2 linked regions of the Homo sapiens genome follow. The protein of the gene in region 2 interacts with the protein of the main gene of each other region in a pairwise test. Each region holds a gene or a part of one and is shown on either strand. Other genes may lie near its edges. The genes, in order: PKP2 and DSG1.

The links.
Region 1: the proteins of DSG1 (region 2) and PKP2 interact in a two-hybrid assay, tested with the Homo sapiens proteins (one study listed by BioGRID).

The regions. Positions count from the first base shown.
Region 1 is NC_000012.12:32,885,821-32,895,508, forward strand, and holds part of PKP2 (plakophilin-2), read right to left. Parts: intron 8,959-9,688; exon of another isoform or gene 8,460-8,958; intron 1-8,459. UniProt on the Homo sapiens protein: A component of desmosome cell-cell junctions which are required for positive regulation of cellular adhesion.
Region 2 is NC_000018.10:31,312,459-31,322,695, reverse strand, and holds the start of DSG1 (desmoglein-1 preproprotein), read right to left. Parts: upstream 4,537-10,237; 5' UTR 4,396-4,536; coding exon 4,348-4,395; intron 1-4,347. UniProt on the Homo sapiens protein: Component of intercellular desmosome junctions. Involved in the interaction of plaque proteins and intermediate filaments mediating cell-cell adhesion.

The sequences.
Region 1 (9,688 bases), on a different chromosome or scaffold from region 2:
TACAGTTTCTTTTATAGTAAGCAAATGACAGAGAACTGCTAAACAAGCAAGATCTTTATATAGCCTGCTTCTATTAGAGAGAAGAGAGGTGCACTCACATTCAGAAAAGCGTCTTTTCTTTCAATCTTCTAGCACTGAGTGTGGTTTAAAAAAAGTGATTTGGTTCACACTGAGCTCTAAAAGGAGGATTTCTGGAGATGAAGATACATGTAGAGGTGCCCACAAAAACAGGTGTGGTTAAATGTAACCACAGAAATCAGCAGGTGTTCGCTATTAGTATTGATTTAAATGCTGCAGGTAATTGGGCTAACAACCGTGAGCAGTTGTCCTCACAGTGTGGATTCACGATGGTCTTTTAGAAGGAAAGAGCCTGAAAGTCTAAAAGCTTATCATCTTACTGTTATTTGGTCTTTCTACAGTAATCTCTGGCTTGCAACAGCTCTCGTTCTCCACAAATCTTAAAAGATTTAACTTCTCCCATTACAGTAAAGTTGAGGACATGTTATTCCAGGTAAGACATGGGATCTTGCCACTTATTCAGAGGAATTTGTATAGCAATTCATATTTGAATGGATCCTTAAAGTCATTTACTAGCAATAGTAGGAGCTTAAAAGAAAGCAGAAAATATACTGAGACTCATCAAAGACCATACGTATGTCCGCACTCCTGAGTTGGTGAAGGAATTTTTTTTGTTTTTTGTCTGTCTGTGTTGGCATAAAACATACGATTCATTTCCTTGGACTTACATATTTTTTAAAACTATATTTTATCTTCTATTCTTACTTTCCAAGAAGAACAACCAGATATTGATGGAAATCACAACAGCCCAAGTAAGCATTTGCTTAGGCTGGAAAATAAGTAGAATTTGTTGGTTTAGAAAACTATAGTTGGCTGGGCAGGGTGGCTCACACTAGCAATCCTAGCACTTGGGGAGGCTGAGGTGGGTGGATCACTCGAGTCCAAGAGTTTGAGACCAGCCTGGGCAATATAGTGAGATCTCGTCTCTACAAAATTTTAAAAATTTAAAAATTAGCTGGGCATGGTGGCATGGGCCTGTAGTCCCAGCTACTTGGGAAGCTGAGGTGGGTGGATTGCTTGAGCCCTGGAGACAGAAGTTGCAGTTAGCTGAGGTTGGGCCACTGCACTCCAGGCTGGGTGACAGAAAGCAAGACTCTGTCTCAAAAAGGAAAAAAAAAAAGGGAACACTATGGTGAAAAATTGTTTCAAAGCAGATGAAAGTCTAATAAAGTTTTATACTATTGAAAATTTAACCAATAGTTGTACAGTGCTATATTTTGTGACCAGTTAGCTCACATAATCAACCATGAGAAACAACTTGGTGTATCAGGTATATGCTAGAAAGTACTGGCTATGAGTTCTTAAAACGTTGAATATGCCAGGGACAGAACAGCTCTCCTGCAAGAGTGGGCCACACATACCACATGCCAGTGTGCGACTGACTAATCCATTGCTGTTATCACTCACACGATATACCAGCCACTAGAGTCCTTATTTTTCAGGAGCCCCCTAAGCAATTCAAGAGCTATCTTCTGATATACCAATTTATGACATTTGGGGGGCAATCCTCAAATCACTGCTCTAGGTAATGACAAAAACACATTTTAAATGTCCCCCTCCCACTTTTTTTATTGAGATGGAGTCTTGCTCTGTCGCCCAGGCTGAAGTGCAGCGGTGCGATCTTGGCTCACTGAAACCTCTTCCTCTCAGGATCAAGCGATTCTTGTGCCTCAGCCTTCCGAGTAGCTGGACTACAGGTGTGTGCCACCATGCTGACTAATTTTTGTATTTTTAGTAGAGATGGGGTTTTGCCATGTTGGCCAGGCTGGCCTCAAACTCCTGGCCTCAAGAGTTCTACCCGCCTCGGGCTCCCAAAGTGCCAGCGCTTTAGGCGTGAGCCATTAAATGGCCCTTTTATATCACAGGTGTTCATGTCATATTTTGTTTGAGGTATTAGAATATGTAATTGTAGAATTTGTTATTATAAACTGGTAATTTAGCATCCTGGTGAAGTATTAAATAGAAATATCCTGGAAGTATCTAAATCTGTTCATTTCTCAGCCAGGCACGGTGGCTCATGCCTGTAATCCCAGCACTTTGGGAGGTCAAGGTGGGCAGATCACTTGAGTCCAGGAATTTGAGACCAGCCTGGGCAAAAAGGCAAAACCCCATCTGTACAAAAAAAATACAAAAATTAGCTGGGTGTGGTGGCGTACACCTGTAGTCCCAACTACTCAGGAGGCTGAGGTGAGAGAATGGCTTGAGCCCGGGGGGCAGAGGTTGCAGTGAGCCAAGATGCACTCCAGCCTGGGCAACAGAGACAGACGCTGTCTCATGAATGAATGAATGAATACACTGTTCATTTCTGTAACTGTGTCTTTACTTTGGCATTCCTGCCAATTATTTGCTGAGATATCTCATGAGACTTTAAGACTTGTAAGACTTTATAACTTCCATGGCAAATATCACATTATACTCCCAATAATATAAAAAAAGGTGAATTTATAGAACTCACAAATTATTTTTTGCTTTAAAATACTTACTACAGGTTTTCTTTGTAATGACTTTCAAGTCATTATATTTCCCCTGCCTCTCACGTGCCAGGGTTAACCCCTCCCAACTGATTCATAACTGCTAACCCAACTTTTCTTTTTCTTTTTTTTTTTTTGAGACAGATTTTCACTCTTGTTGCCCAGGCTGGAGTGCAATGGCACGATCTCGGCTCACCGCAACCTCCACTTCCCGGGTTCAAGTGATTCTCCTGCCTCAGCCTCCCAAGTAGCTGGGATTACAGGCATGCGCCACCACGCCCAGCTTATTTTTTCTGTACTTTTAGTAGAGACAGGGTTTCTCCATGTTGATCAGGCTAGTCTCAAACTCCCGACCTCAGATGATCCACCCGCCTCAGCCTCCCAAAGTGCTGGGATTACAGGCGTGAGCCACTGCGCCCGGCCTCTTTTTTTTTTTTTTTTGAGACAGGGTCACTCTGTTGCCCAGGCTGGCGTGCAGTGGTGCATTCAGAGCTCACTGCAGCCTTGAACTCCTGGCCTCAGGCGATTCTCCTGTCTCGGCCTCTCAAAGTGCTGGGATTACAGGAAAGAGCCACCATGCTAGGTCTGTTCCTACTTTAAATCCACCAAATCTGTCAAATGTATTTTCACAAAACTCCTGCACTTTTCATGTTTCTTCCCTGTGGAAATATCTGTGACTCACAATTATCAAATTCTTTAACTTGCATTCAAGATCAGAGGAGAGGGGTGAAGGAGGCTGCCTATAAGGGACACAACTGAACTAAGTTAACTGGGCAAGAGAAGGAAGGGAGGGAGACAAGGAGGGGTAGAAATACCAAGCAAGATAAACTGCCTGTGTGTGTTTGGTGGGGAGCAAGGGTAGTGGCCCCAGGGATGAAGTTTGAGAAGTTGCAGGCATTAGATCACGAAGAACTTGGAATGCTGTGTTCAATAATTTTACTCTTGCAGATAACAGTAAGAAACTGAAGGAATTTAAACTGGGAAATGATGCAATGAGATTTTAGAAAGTTCACTCTAGCAGCTGTGTGGAGAATGGATTGGAGTGGGGCCACGTTAAAACAAAGAGGTTATTTTCTCTTCCAAAGAGATTTTGACAGAAAGAACTGTATCTTACACTACCACTTCTAGCACAGTCTTGTATCAGTACTTGACAAGTTAATTGTTGATTAGTCAGATTACCTGTACATTAGAAATATCCTAGTTACACAAATTCAGTTTGCGCTTAATCATTCAGGCAGGTATGTATTCTGTGGCTCACCAGAATGGAACTAAAATGTGAGTATGATAGTCACATACATGCTTTTGTCTTGGGGTAGATGGAAGGTGCTCAAATAGTTTCGACTGTTCTCTGTCATTCTGGGTATACGGAGAGGAAGGAAAGTTGCTTCCCCAGAATGTAGGCAGACTTTTATTAGAAAAGCAGACTTTGGGCCAGGTGCAGTGGCTCATGCCTGTAATCCCAGCACTTTGGGAGGCCGAGGCGGGTGGATCGGTCAGGAGATCGAGACCATCCTGGCTAACATGGTGAAACTCCATCTCTACTAAAAATACAAAAATTAGCCGGGTGTGGTGGCACACACCTGTAATCCCACTTACTTGAGAGGCTGAGGCAGGAGAATCGCTTGAACCCGAGGAGACGGAGGTTGCAGTGAGCCGAGATTGTGCCACCGCACTCCAGCCTGGGCATAGAGCGAGACTCCATCTCAAAAAAAAAAAAAAAAAAAAAAAGAAAAGCTGACTTTGTTCATTTTGGCAAGGTTGTTTCTATATTTGAATAATATATGTTTACTATCATTCTTTTATCTGTATGGCTTGTGTATTTATCTGTAATATTTTGGTGGCCTATAAATTCATATTATCTGTCAAGAAAAGTTCCCATTTGTTTTCATTCTTCAATGAAAAAGAGTAATCAAGATCCAATAAGCTTGATGCTCACCCACACCCACCCCATAAATAGCTTACTGAGAGATTCAGAAAAAATAATCCATTAAGCTTCTAATGAAGGTTTTCATCCACAAATTCTGGAAATCAAGGAATTGCAGAACTTTGATTATGACTGCTTAGGTTAACGAATGTTATTAAGTCTAAAGCTGATTATTCCAAGAATATAAATATGTGAATTATTTTAATAGTAATGGCAGGTTGTGTTTTCAAATGCTTAAGTTTCTTTTTTTCCAACTGTCCATTTTTATTTAAATCTACATATTGAGCTCTCAAGCTTTTGTCTTTAAACACTTTAAGAACATTACAACTGTTTTTATGTCCAATATCCAATTACCAGAAATGGCATTATAGAAAAGATACACAGGCCGGGTGCGGTGGCTCACGCCTGAGATCCCAGCACTTTGGGAGGCAGAGGTGGGCGGATCACCTGAGGTCAGGAGTTCGAGACCATCCTGGCCAACATGGTGAAACCCTGTCTCTACTAAAAATACAAAAAATTAGCTGGGCTTGGTGGCGGGTGCCTGTAATCCCAGCTACTCGGGAGGCTGAGGCAGGAAAATCGCTTGAACTCGGGAGGCAGAGGTTGCAGTGAGCCGAGATCGTACCACCGCACTCCAGCCTGGGCAACAAGAGCGAAACAAAAAAAAAAAAAAAAGAAAAGAAAAGACACACAACAGGTTTTTAATGTTTTTATTATGAGAGCACTTGATAGTTTGTTTAGTAGTCTTACTCTACTAGTCAGGGGAGCCAGGTGGCTCACTCTAATAGAAAAATAAAGTTTTCTCCTAATTTATTGTCTATTCCCACTTGCATTGCTGCCTTTTACTGCTAATTTACTTCCTCAGGAGAAGTAGGGTATTTATCTTCATATATTTGTAGACATGCACAAGATACCTGAAGTCCAACATTTGTCTCAGAATTGTATAATTTAAACTTGTTGAATGTCATCTGAGATGGAAATAAATCATCTTATAGGCCATATTAATCATCTGATTTATAAACTCCAGAGGTTTTAGCATCATATTTATTATATTTCATTACTATCATAGTTTGCCAATAATATGCTTGTTCTCTCAGAGAAAAAAAATCAAAACTTTTAATAATTTGTATTGATCAGACTAGGAATTCAATTGTAGGGTAAAATCAATGTTAAAATGTGAAGATAAAATAATGTAACTATGTATAGGCTTATTTTAATAAATGAGAAAAAACTGTAAAGTTGCTATCTAAAACTTTGAGGAAATGTGAACTACAAATACCTAGAATATTTAATACAAAAGCTACCCTCTGTTCCCATGACTGTGGAACTCTTAGCACAGGGCATACAGATAACAACAGTCTTTTAAAAGCCTAAATGAACAGTCTTCCTTCCTTTAAGGTAATTTCCTGCGTCTTATCTGTCACATATAGAACAATGTACTTTCATAATCAAACCCTGCTACTCTGGGTCTACTTGTGGTTTCTTACAGTTCCACGGATTCTGAAGCATCCTTACTTTACCCTCACACAAAACTTCACCCCTAAGAGATGTGTTCTCAACATTTCCAGGGGTGTGAAGTTTTTTTTGTTGTTGTTGTTAACTACCATTTTGTTAACATTCTATTTCACTTACTATAATCAGAAGGATTTCTTTAATTATTTTTGGACTTACCGAACTCAATCTGCTTGGCCCTGGACAAAAAGTGGCTCACAGGCCATATTACACAGACACAGAGGTGCATTTAATCCAGTGTGCTACTGACACCTCACATTCAGAGCAGAGGGCCATGACCCTGCCACCCGCCATCTCACTCTTTTTTTTCCCTTTCCTGATCCCTCCTACTTTCTGAACGATTAGTCACCTTGCTCCCCAGAATTGCTTCATTCCTGGGATTCCTTTTTGTCAAAGGAAGAATTTATGCAGAATTTGAACAATGTCTAACTTTTTTTTAACAGTAGCGCCTAGTAACTACCTTTCTTTTGCTACCCTGAGCCAATTTTCAATTCTCTCTCCAGAATTCACTTTTTTTTTTTTTTTTGAGATGGAGTCTCACTCCATCGCCCAGGCTGGAGGCAGTGGCATGATCTTGGCTCACTGAAACCTCTGACTCCCAGGTTCAAGCAATTCTCCTGCCTCAGGCTCCCTAGTAGCTGGGATTACAGGTATGCACCACCACACCTGGCTAATTTGTTTTTTATTTTTAGTAGACACAGGGTTTCACCATGTTGGCCAGGCTGATCTCAAACTCCTGACCTCAGGTAATCCACCCGTCTCGGCCTCCTAAAATGGTGAGACTACAGGCATGAGTCACTGCGCCCAGCCCAGAATTCACTTTGATCACAGATATTGAAAAGCAGCTTCACCAAGGAAATCACCTAAGATAATAGTGTGCCTCAAGTTTTGTGGTGGATTTCCAAAGAGGTTGTAAATATAATTGCATTAGGAGATTGTTCACTGTCCTTTATAAGTAGTAAATACAATTTAAAACACAATTTTCTCTCCACTCAGATACCTGGGGTGGGGGCGGGGGGGGGGGGAGAACTGTGTAGCAAGTAGTACTTTTAAGGCAAGTGTAATAAATAGGATATGGATGCTTTTAATTTTTCCCTTTGCCAATACTTGCAATTCTTAAATGTCTTCTATTTTAGAAAAATATTTTAACTATTAGCTACAATACAGACTTACTTCACAATGCTGCTATACACCTCTGAAGGCCCCTTCCCAAAGAGTTACAGCCAACTTTAAAATGTTCAGCACAGTTAAAAATAACACCAAAAGTCACTGAGTGATTTACAATGAAAACCACCCAGCTATACTAAGGCATTGGAAAGAAGACAAAGGGTTAAAGACTCTTGCAAGATACTTATCAACAAATCAGCCACATTTATCTCATCTCTGCTTTCAGCAGGTTATCCGCTGTCTCAACCTTACAGGTTTGTCAACAACTCAGAATTCTCCAGGGCCCTGGAGCTAATAGCAGTTAACATCAGGGTCTTTTCTTCCTGGAATTTCTTGTGTTGATACAGGATTTTTTCCAGACCAGCACTGTTTCAACAATTGCTTGTCTGTTTCAACTTGAGAGACAGGATAGTAACATGGAAATAATAAAAATTATACTCAGAACCACCACGAGCCCCCAGACCTTTTCAAAGAAGTTTAATTAAACAATACATACGAACCACCCCTGGTAATTGTTTCATGGCATGCTAATGTTAAATTCCTTTGAAGCTGATTTCCTTTTTGAGTCTTAGAAAGCTGAGGCTTTAAAGTAAGTAGGTGTTGTTTGCTGCCTTATCTCTCTGTCTGATTTGTACTTCTGTGTAGGCTGCAGAGTGTATTTCAGCTTACTGGAAAGCTGCTGTTGCAATCAAAATATTTCAAACGCTTTGTTCCTTAGTTGGAACAGCCAGTCAAGTAGTTGACCCAAGCATTATAGCAGAAGGACCAAGATAGTGCCCTTTGTTCTACCATATCAACTCTGTGAACTGTGAAATATTCATTCTGTTCCCTCCTAGAATGATCTTTCTCCAGTCACCTCCCTATGTCCAGTCCTACTGAATTTTTGAGATCTACCTCCAGGAAGCTTTTCAAAATTTCCTGCCACCAGGAGTAACTTACTTTTTTTTTTTTTTTTTTTTTTTTTGAGATGGCGTTTCGCTCTTGTTGCTCAGGCTGGAGTGCAATGGCGAGATCTCCGCTCACTGCAACTTCTACCTCCCGGGTTCAAGCGATTCTCCTGCCTCAGCCTTCCGAGTAGCTGAGTAGCTGGGATTACCGGCATGTGCCACCACGCCCGGCTAATTTTGTATTTTTAGTAGAGATGGGATTTTACCATGTTGGTCAGGCTGGTCTCAAACTCCCGACCTCAGGTGATCCTCCCGCCTCGGCCTCCCAAAGTGCTGCAATTACAGGCATGAGTCACTGCGCCCAGCCAATTTACACTTCTAAACTCCATAATATATTAGCCATTCTTTTGGGTCACTTACTACTTTTTATTTGGTAATGTATTTTTCTAGCGGTTGGCTTCCTTCTTCAAACTTTTTGCTTTAAAGCAAGCAGAGTCTTTGTGTTTAATTCAGCACCTGCACAGCGCCCGGCATGAAGAACATACTCATTTGATGCTTGCTGAATTCATCACACAGGTGATGCATTACTTTGTAGAAAGAACAGATTATGTGTGGAGTTGGGATTAAATTTCCAACCATTGCTGACAGACACATACTTCATATGTGAGATGGATTCTCATATCTATCTCAGCAATTGTTTCAAGAATATAATGAAGATTCTGGAATAGGCACATAGTAGATGCTCAGCAACATTCCCTTTTCTTCTGTTCATGGCTCCATTCCCTCCATTTATGGAAGAGTTGTATCTGCTTGCTCTCTTCCTAGCTGGCCATTCTCAGAGGATAAGAAAGAATATCTAATATGCCTCCTGTGTCTCCTACGCAGGGGAAGCTGATTTGGTTTCAGTTTAGCACTGGACCTATGGGCACAGAGAATGAATGGGTGTAATGGCTCCACTTTTCAAAGACTGGCCTCACTCATCCCGCAGTCTTTAGTCAGACCCCTAAGTCTAAATAAATATAAGGTCTTTCCCTCCATGTATTGCAGCAGTTCTGTGTTTTCTAGACCTCCCCAGCCTTTCAGAACTTCCTCAATTTTATTTAAAGAAAAATGGGAGGGGGCCACGGAGAGGCTTAGCATCTAACAAATCCCACTTTGTATTAATCATTTTAAAACTTAATGATAAAACTGATAAGTTTAAAATTCAGGTTTGGGAGTTTAAATACCAGCTCTGCCACTTACCATCTATTAGAGCTTCAGTGTTACTTAACTGCTTAGTTTCCTCATCTGTAAAATGAGGATGAAAATACCTAACTCACAAGTTTTTAAATACATATATATATATATATCTCAAATGAATGCAAACCACATCGCCCAATTCTTGGCACATAGTATGCACTCAGTTATATTAACTACGATCATTGAACATCTTCTCTTTACCTTTCAAGTATGTTAATATTGACTACGTCATCCTTTAGGATTCTTTTACACACACAGTACAGCCTCCCAGACTCTGCTGTTTGAAATCTCTGGTCTGGCCTGTTAGAATTTTTCTGTTTTCCTAATAGAAACTAGAATGGGTTAGCCTACATTCGCCAATGCCCAAGTTACTTCATACAGAAACAACTGAACGTTGCAGGAAACAGATA
Region 2 (10,237 bases):
TTTTATATACATCGCAAGGATGCACTTGAAACAAAGCTAAAATATCACAATTTGCTTTATTTAAAAACCTCCTCTTATCTTTCCTTTGTACTGCTCTGACAAAGGGTATCAGTCTGAGGTTGACAGCACCTTAATGGGTTGAATTCTCTAATTTATTCTTTTCGTTTGTGTATTTTACAAGTACATACTGAATGTGTATTATGTGGATCCAACACTAGATTAAGACTTTTAAAGGCCTGAAAATATTATAGTAAGTCTCAGGTGAAATGTAAAATGAATTTAATACTACACCATTAAAATGTTGGGGAAATCCAGTATTATTATTTCTATGTTTAATAGCGTGATAATTTTTTGGAGTGTGTGGGGGAAGAGCTGTATAAACTATCCAGAAACTTCCTTGTGGTACCTCTGCTGTGTGTGATTAGACATCTTTTGAGCAATCTTGCACTGGTGCAAGGCACCATAAGGGATACAAAGGCAAATCAGACACAGAACCTGCCTTCAAATAACTTACAGTCTTGCAGTTTTGAGAGCAACAGGCAACCATTAATTTGTAGAGATATGATTTCTCATTAGACGAGTATGAAAAACTGTGGCCTATTCTCATAGACCAATTAAGAGCATGGATCAGCAGCCAATGGCATTTAAAAAAATTTGATCTGTCTAAGTCTATTGAAGGAATTTGCATATCAAGCATAATCAGCAAGGGTGGCATGACCCAGCACTGGGCAAGGGTGTTCCCTGAGATGAGGGAGCATTATAAATCTAATTGCGGTGCCTGGCACAGCAGGCTTCCTGCTGATATGTTAGGCAATGTCTATTAGGACACAGGGATACTCAGCAACCAGGTCTTTGATGAATGTGTTGTGGAGAAAGAGTTACCAGAAATTAAGTGCTCTGGGTATAGATAAGATAATTTTCTAGATTGATGAGATTTGTTAAATAAGTGAATCTTATTCTAGGGTCAGCCTTTCAGATTTAAGACAGCATTCTTCAGTGCTTTAGTTTCTACTCTTTTCCTAAAACAGGGATGACAAAATGTTTTTACTTTGTGGCAACTCAAACCAATTGAGCGATGATAAATGTGTACTCCTTGTTTCTGTAAAGGTGATAGAAGATGCTAATCCTAAATCTACAGCGAAATAATAAAGCTTTTATGAACACCATATAACTGTTAATGATGACACTTGAATGCAATTTGTAAGTTTCACTGAATACGTGAACAGAAATATTCCTTCCATTTTCTACAAAATATTTTACTGAAACACTGATCTCTATACTACATATCACTATAATACACGCTCAAGAAAGCACAAAGAGCTCTCTCTTTTGCTTGTCTTCTGTTTGGTCTGTACTAATTTGTTAGTTCTTCTCTTGCTTTAGGCATCTGTGAACACAATTTTGGGGACTTAAGATGTCTTCAAGTAAGTTTAGGAACTATGTAATGAAATGTGTATTATTTTCTGTGTATTTTAGCCTGAGTGATGAAAGTACTCTTAAAAACTCCTGCTCATATTTTACAGAATTTCAGTTCGGTTCAAACTGTGGAGTTAGTTTATCAGGTGTCAGAGGGTTGGGTTTTTTTTTGTTTGTTTGTTTCGAAATGAAATATTAACCCATAGAAAGAGGGGGAAAATGGTTACTATAATGAACCAAAATAATCAGATCATTCATGGTCATAGATAAAAGTCATTTTCTCTGTTCTTTGAGCTTGAGCTGCAGAAATTTACCTTTTTAGAAAAAGACATCTTCAGATTTGTATTGACTTAAATGGACTAATTGGACCTGGCAAAGTTGCAAGTAATTTTCAGAAATCATTAAAACCATAGAGATCCCTCTGGCTCTGTTTTGCTTTCCCACAGTGACCATGCTGTACTTTTTACCATTGTCATATACATGCACATAGATTTCTTTTATTTGGTGCATAAGAAGCATTGTTCTCAGGCCTAGAGAAAATACATTCTAACTCCTTTCTCTACTCCATACACTGATTACATGGAAACAAAAAGAAGAATGAAAAATAGATGCAGAATTAACAAAATGTGTTTGACTTGCAGTGTTATAGCAGGTGTAATCTCTTGCCTGTCCAGGAGACTTGTCAGAACAATGGAATAGCCATAGAGCGATCTTGATTGCTGTAAGAGCAGCTCCTCCAGCTTTGTTCTCCCTGATTCAACCCACTCATTTGAACAAGGTTCACAACCTTCAGATGCATTGAGATGAATACACAGTATGCTTGCAAACAAATAGTTACCCAGTTCTCAGGTAGATTTGCTTAAAAGACACTACCAATTTAAATATCTTAAAGGCCTTAACAATTGTACAAATACGCTTCCTAATGCAGGTTCCCGCTTATTGACTTTGAGTAGAGACGAATATAAAGACTTTACATAAATTTTTTTTCATTTTTTGGTAAAAGCATGCATTTATAATGAGACTAGGAGAAAGATAACTGAAAGAATTTGCTATAGTGGTGGTTGTTTTATGAAGAAAAAAAGTATTTTAAAGAAAAATACAGATTAGGAAACTCCAAAGCACAATTACCAAAATTATCCCATGTGGTAAAATCTGTACTTAAAATAAATTTTGATCTTCCAAACCTTAGAAAGTGAAATGTTTTCCAAAAAAACCTATGATGTCAACGTGAAAATGAAACATTGTAATTCATGATAGTGTAAGTTCTTTGAGAAAAAATTTTCATAAGGCATGTGGGAGACTTGTGATTAATTTCAATATAAAATAAGGTAACCTCCTCTTCCCCCATTCCCAAAAAAACCCCCATAAGCCAACAAAAAAAAATCTAGGCACAGCTAGAGAAAGTTCAATAAAGATATATGATTTTGATGATGATACATTTTATTGAAGAATGACTAAATAGGAAGTGGCTGTTTAAAGAAATTTGATATGCTATAATTAATTTGAAATAAATAAATCAACAAATAAGGCACATCTTAGAGATTCTATGAAAGTTAGTGTACACCTATCTGAACAAGCTGATCAACTAAAACTATAATAGCTCTTAATGGATCAAATTTATTTGAAATTTTAAGTAAAAGTGCTTGATTACTGACAATATGAAACTCTCATATTTCAAATGACATACTGTATAATGATCAGTGATCCCTACCAAATCCTAAGTAATGAAATCAACTGATCCTAAATATCCACTGAAAAGAGCATGGGATAGGACTAATGTTTGAAGGAAAGCTTGGAACCAAAGCCACCAGCTTACTGATGCTCATTTATAACTAAATCCACTGATTATGTCCCGCCTTAGTTAATAAAACTGAATTCAAACTAACCAGCATACTTTGAATCAAAGATCTAACTTATTATACCAACCAACCCAACATTCCAGTTCAAAAATTAAGCAAGTAGAAACAAATGTGAACCACAGCACTATACATCCTGCCAAGCTGGAGGGCAATTTACTTGGCACCTGCCTTTTTGAATTACATTAACCTTACTATGAGAGAGATTACAATTTTCAAATTTTCACTGAAAGTGAAATTGACATAATACATTAGTGGTGCACTTAGTATTATCTCTACAGCAAGAAAACTAATTACATGTAAGGGGGCAATGATAAAGTATTTCATTACATTCGTCAGACGATCAAGTGCACAACTTTTATATCGCAGTCATCACTGACATTCCAGTAGTAAGATCGAGTGTAATAATAATTATACTTACTCTTTAATTATAGCCACTTCTTCACTTAATATGTCATTTATAAACCTCCTGTACTGCCGTTTTTTGAAATTAAAAATGTTTTAAATAAAATCATAGTTAAATAGTGCGGGGCTTTTTATAGTAGTGATACAGATTCTAACCAAATATGCAACTGATGACTTTATTTGGATAGCGAGACCAGCCACAAACTGCTACGATTTTAAATTATGTGGTGCTATTTTTATGTTTTAAAAATTAGAGTAATTCCACCACCAAACACACAAAAAAAATAAAAAAAAAAACAGGTTAAAAATCCAGACACACTTGTGATATTTAGTTTAAAAGCCCTCTTGCAGAAGAGATTTTGAACGACAAAGTGCTACTAACTAGCGATAGGAATTTCCTAAATTCAGTCTTTTCCCAGCATGACTTAGCAATGACTTCAGTGTCAGAGATGTAATACAATGAGTTGACACTGAGGCATTAACATGATCTTGAGTCTTCAATTAAAGAGAGAAATGCTATTGAAAAATCTAGTTCATAAAATCATCTTGTCATTAATATACATTTTCAATGGGTTTAGGTTAGAAATAATGCCCACTAACATTTTCTAAAAAGTTTTCACTTGTTTACAATGGGCACGATTATGAAGGACTTTTACCAGAATCCACTCACCAGAAAAATGAACAGCATTGCAACTACTCTGAAGAAACTCCAGTCCATCTCTGCTGGATTCTCTTACATCCAAGACCAAGGGAGTTTTGTTTGTTCTTCTCTGTTCTTTTTCTTTCTCCCACTCAGCTGGTGTCTGATTAAAATAATTTCTCAGTAGATGTTCTTACATGCAGGCTTTGAGGTGTTTCTGCCTTCCTCTGGGAGAAGGACTGAAGGTACGTATAACCAGTCTGGATCCCCACCCTAAAAACTTGGGCTGGTCTCACTGAAATGCTTGACAAGATCATCATTGCTCCCAGGTAAAAACTTGGGGACACACCCTTCCTCCAGCTGAAAAGCGACTCTTGATGGGGCAAGGAAGATTCACTCCTTTACTGAATGTTTTCAGTGGCAGGCTCTTAAAGTGAACAGAAATACCGAGGGTTATACAGGTGATGGGGGCTTCTCACCCCATGCTTTCTTTACAGGTGGTTTAGTTTCTCCCCATATTAAACAGGCAGGTATAACTTGAATGCTCATCTTATTCATTCCATTATCTGTTTGTAGCCAAACCCTCAGGTCATAGTAGAAAATGACAAACTTTCCATTTTAGTAGATGTTGGGAAAGTTTCAGTTATTTTCGGTTGTTAAGAGACAGAAAATATGCTAATGCAAGACTGAGATTTTTTAAAGTTATTAATTCAAACAAGTAAAACCATGATACTTACAATTATTAGATCCTCTGCATAAGTCACAATTCCCATTAACTGACCAGCCTTCAGTCTAAGGAATCCTCCATTTTCCCTCTAAAGAAATTATTTTCTCTCCCTAATTATTTTTCTTTCTTTATGATTCTTTTATTAAATGCAACAAAATAAAAATTTAAATATTACTAAACTTAAGGGTGAATAGTGAGAACCACCAATTAAAATCCTGATAATAACTTTAAAAATGAGATTCGGTGCCTGAAATACTAATGAAAACACAGAAAGCTGCTCAGCAGGTGAGGTGGGTTAAAAGTCAATGACAATTCCTAAGCACAGAGCCAAGAATCTGTACAGCGAGCCAATTAGAACATAGGGAATACACTGAAGAAATGGCTGCCTACACAGGTAGACGGGAAACTGAATGCAGCCCTGAGGTTTGTGAAAATAAATAGCAACCTTCACAGGGCAGCATTTGGACATATTTTTGGACTCTCTTCTCTTCCCCTGGCAACGTCTAGTATAAATATTGTGAGTGGCAGGAAGCTCATAGACACTGGACACCCTCAGAGTTTGAAACGGCTACTTAGAACAAGAGACCTACCTGATAAGATGTTGATTATGGTCAAAAAGATACTCAAAATGTCTCCAAAAGGAAGAAAATCTCTGAGGGTCAGAGGGTCTATAGAAGGCTGTCATTTCACTACAGATTTGTGGCAAAGAAGATGTGTGGTTTGAATTTCCATATTATCCATCATACAGTGTGGAGGGGAGGAGATAGGCTGCCCATGTTTATTTGCAGTGAATAAGAATGTTTATGATTGTAAATAGCAGATGTAAATAAATAAAATTTAGAAAGATGAGCTGGCCGATTTTCTCTAATGAGAAATGTCAAATAAAATAGACTGTATTAACCTATGACTTAGTCTGAGCAATATATTAGTATCATGTTGTCTGACCATGAATAGCAGAAGACTCACTGGGCACCAGAGACAACTGCACCTACTCTTGCAGCTTTCCAGTGGCGAGTCAATGTTTTATGCATCTCGGATTCTGGGCATGATGCTAGGGCATGCATGGGGGCCTCCTTCATCCATTAAATTACCTTTCCTTAAACCTAACCCTGGCTCCACCCCTAACTCAATGCCTTGCTCCAACAATCCTATATGACTAGGGGATTCATAAGGCAGCAATCTCTCAAACATCTTTCTGGAGAGGAGGTGTGATAGAACTCCAATACTGCAGAGCAGCGTCTGTCTTGGCAGTTACATGAGAGCCAATACGATGTTAAACACAGCGGGAGAGGGAATTTGTTAATCACTTTCTCTCCCTTGCCTCCTTCCCTGCCTTTTTCTCTTTCTTACTCATTTTAACGTCCTCAGAACAGTGCTATCCAGTAGAACTTTCTGCAATACGAACATATTCTCTATCTATGCTGTCAGATATGGTAGCCATTTATAATATGTGACTATTGAGGATTTAAAATATGGTTATTATGACTAAGGAAGAGAATATTTAACTTTGCTTAATTTAAATTTAAATAACCACATGTGGCTAGTGGCTACCATATTGGACAGTGCAGACATCATTGCTTTTGTTGTCTATCTTCTCTCTTACTCCAAACCTTAACTTCCGGTTTTTACAAACTCACCTCTCTCAATCTACCCTATGCCTTTTCTTAATTGAGAACCCCACCATTGTTCCAGCTTTCAATGAGCACATTTAATTAGTTTTCCTTCATGTACTCTTATCTCAGTTGGTCCTGTCCCTTTTCCTGACTTAGTGGTCCTCCTTCCTAATGCCAATGAGTTAAGATACTTTAAAACATAGGCAACACAAACCATTTCATTTCCGTATTCACAATGTTTTCAATTCTTTCTTCCAGCAACCTCATCTGTAACCTCACATCACACTGTTGCTTCTTCTCTCCCATCTCAGTGAACTCCTTTTCTTTACTCTGAACATTGTTTAGTATGTGTACCTGCACGTACATAGCAACAGTTCTCATTTCATAAAAATTTTGTGAAATTTGGGGTGATTTTTCTGTCTGGAATCTCCCTGGTGAGCTGACAAAGGTTTCCATAGGGACTAAAATTCTCTAGAGAAGAGGATTTTCCTCTTTTTCACAAGGCATTGAAAACTCCAGAATGTAACTTAAGTGTTTGCATTTCTACATTTGTTGTTAGCTTGAAATATTGCAATACCCTTTAAGAAAACAAAATAATCAGCCTCTAAAAAAATAATTTTGAAAAACAAAATAATCCGCATATTTAACTAAAGGTAACACATTTTATTGATCTAGAAGTTCTCAAGCCTAATAACAGTAACTGTTTTATCCACCTTCATTTACATAGCATCCATAGCATGGACTTATATTTCAGAGAAATTCTTTGGAATGTGCTTTTTTTTCCTTTTAGCAATAAAGTATTTTTAAATTGATATATAATAGCTGTACATATTTTTGGGGTGCATGTGATGTTTGCATACCTGTGCAATGTTATAATGATTAAATCAGGGCAACTGTGATATCCGTCACCTTAAACGTTTATTTTTTGTGTTGGGAAATTCTTCTCTTGTAGCTATATTGAAATATACAACAAATTATTGTTAACTATGTTTTAATGTTATATGTGAACCTCTAGTTTTATATGTTCTAAATTATCCTAATGAACTCTACACATTGTTTAAAAAATAGGTGAAAGATGAAAAACTTAAAACTCGAGGGGAAATTGAAGTAAATATGTTAGGCATTATATAAATAAAAATTTTCTGTTTGCCTCTATACTGTATTAATATTACCATGAGATATATTGATTGTAGATCTTGTTCACATTGTTTAAAATTAAACTATTCCTCAAAGAGTCAATGTCACACCCACATACATCTGGGAGATGGGGCCTGCATTTTAGATTAAAAGATACTTTTCTTTTTCATATATAGCAGTCACAGCAAAGTCTGATTGGTAAGTGGATTTTTGGTTTGGACAAAAGAGCTGTGGAAGTAATTTTGGGATATCCAATATCTGGGAAAATTTAAATAAGAACTGTAGAAAATTATGATATATTTTATCAGGTTATATTGTATTATGTCTTTTTTTTTTTTTTGAGATGCATCTAGCTCTCTTGCCTGGGCTGGAGCGCAGTAGCGTGATCTCAGCTCACTGCAAACTCTGTCTCCCAGAACAAGCAATTCTCATGCCTCAGCCTCCTGAGTAGCTGGGTCTACAGGTGTGAGCCACCACACCCAGCTAATTTTTTGTAGTTTTAGTAGAGATGGGGTTTCATCATGTTGCCAGGCTGATCTTGAACTCCTGACCTCAAGCGTTCTACCCGCCTTGCCCTCCCAAAGTGCTTGGATTACAGGTGTGAGCCACCATGCCTAGCCATATTATGTCTATTTTTAAAGATATGTGAATTACATTAGGAGTGAAATGTCATGATGATGGAAATTTTCTTCATAATAATTCAGCAATGAAACAGATAAAATAAATATGGCAAAATATTAACAACTGTTAAATCTAAATGATAGTATATGGTTTTCTTTGTTTTGTGTATATTTGAAAATTTTCCTAATAAAAGTAAAAATAATGAACTTAAGTAGACGTCAGCAAATTATTGCCATGGGTCAAATAGGGTCCACTGTGTGGTTTTTGTTCTTTTTTTAGTTGAACGCAGCCATAGTCATTTGCATATAAATTGTGGCTCCTTTCATTCCACAAGAGCAGGGCTAAGAAGTTATGACAGAGACCATGTTGGCGTAGAAAGCCTAAAATAATTACTTCCCTTGCCCTTTACAGAAAATGTTTGACAATCCCTTGACTAGATGAATAGATTATAGCTTGCAGTATGAAATATGACTTGTGAGTAGATTAGTTGATTTTAGGAGAAGTCACAAAATTGATCTCAAGGATGTGAACAGAAATCATGATGACTGAAAGTAGCCATTAAAATTTAAAAAACTAGGCCGGGCGTGGTAGCTCATGGCTGTAATCCCAGCACTTTGGGAGGCTGATGGGGGCGGATAACTTGAGGTCAGAAGTTCGAGAGCAGCCTGGCCAATGTGGTGAAACCCCATCTGTACTACAAAATACAAAAATTAGTTGGGCGTGGTGGCAGACCCCTGTAATCCCAGCTACTCGGGAGGCTGAAGCAGGAGAATTGCTTGAACTCGGGAGGGGGAGGTTGCAGTGAGCTGGGATGGTGCCACTGCACTACAGCTTGGGCAACAGAGGGAGACTTCATCTCAAATTAAAAAATAATAATAATAAATAAATAAAAAAACTGATCACTGAGAAAAATATATTTATAATAAAATTGTATTTTTAGTTTTCTATGCTTAGAGAGATTTTGTTTATAATTGACCAAAATAATCTACAGCCTAACTCTTCTTCCTTTTTTTTCCCCAGATCTAAGGGAAATCTTAATTATTTTTCTCTAGTAAATTCTAGAATGGGAATTCAACGGCAACACATCTTTATATGCTTTTCTCTATATAGAAACAATGTTTATGAACAAAGGGAAAATCTCAAATAATTTTGAGAACTGTGAACTCTATCTAATATGTAAGTATTTTATGATGAAATAAGAATAGTGAAAGAGACTGAGCTATTATTGCTTGTGCTTTAAAGAAGTTAAAAATATATGATAATTCTGAGTTTTGCTACATGTTCATCACTGTAGTAGGCACTGTGTTCAAAACAATTTTGAACTCTGCTCTTAAGGAGCTTACCTTATAGCTGCAAACACACTGACACAGAAGTAATACTACTTACTTCTGGAAGACTGTTCTACTCATACACCTACGTGGGTTAGCCACAGTCCCACTGTAGTGTTTGGATTTCATGTGCAACTTCAGGCTATTTTTTTTTTTTTTTACTTGTAATACATTATCCCCAGGCCAGTTCTATGGCATTTATTTCTTTGACCTACTATGTTCCTTGCACTATACTAAGGGACTGAGATTACAAAGATGGATAGAATATGGTTCTTGCCCTCATGTGGCTCCAGGCTGTGGAATGGGGAAAACAACATATTTTTTTTCCACTTGCTGAACAGAAGCATGCATAAGATGCTTTGGGAATCCATAGCCCAGTTTTACTGGAGGTGACATGAGAGAAATCTTATAATGTTAATGGCTACACATTTGTGGCATAATAGAACTGATTGCTAAAATACTTAATTTCTTTCTTTCTTTGTAGCTTACCTAAA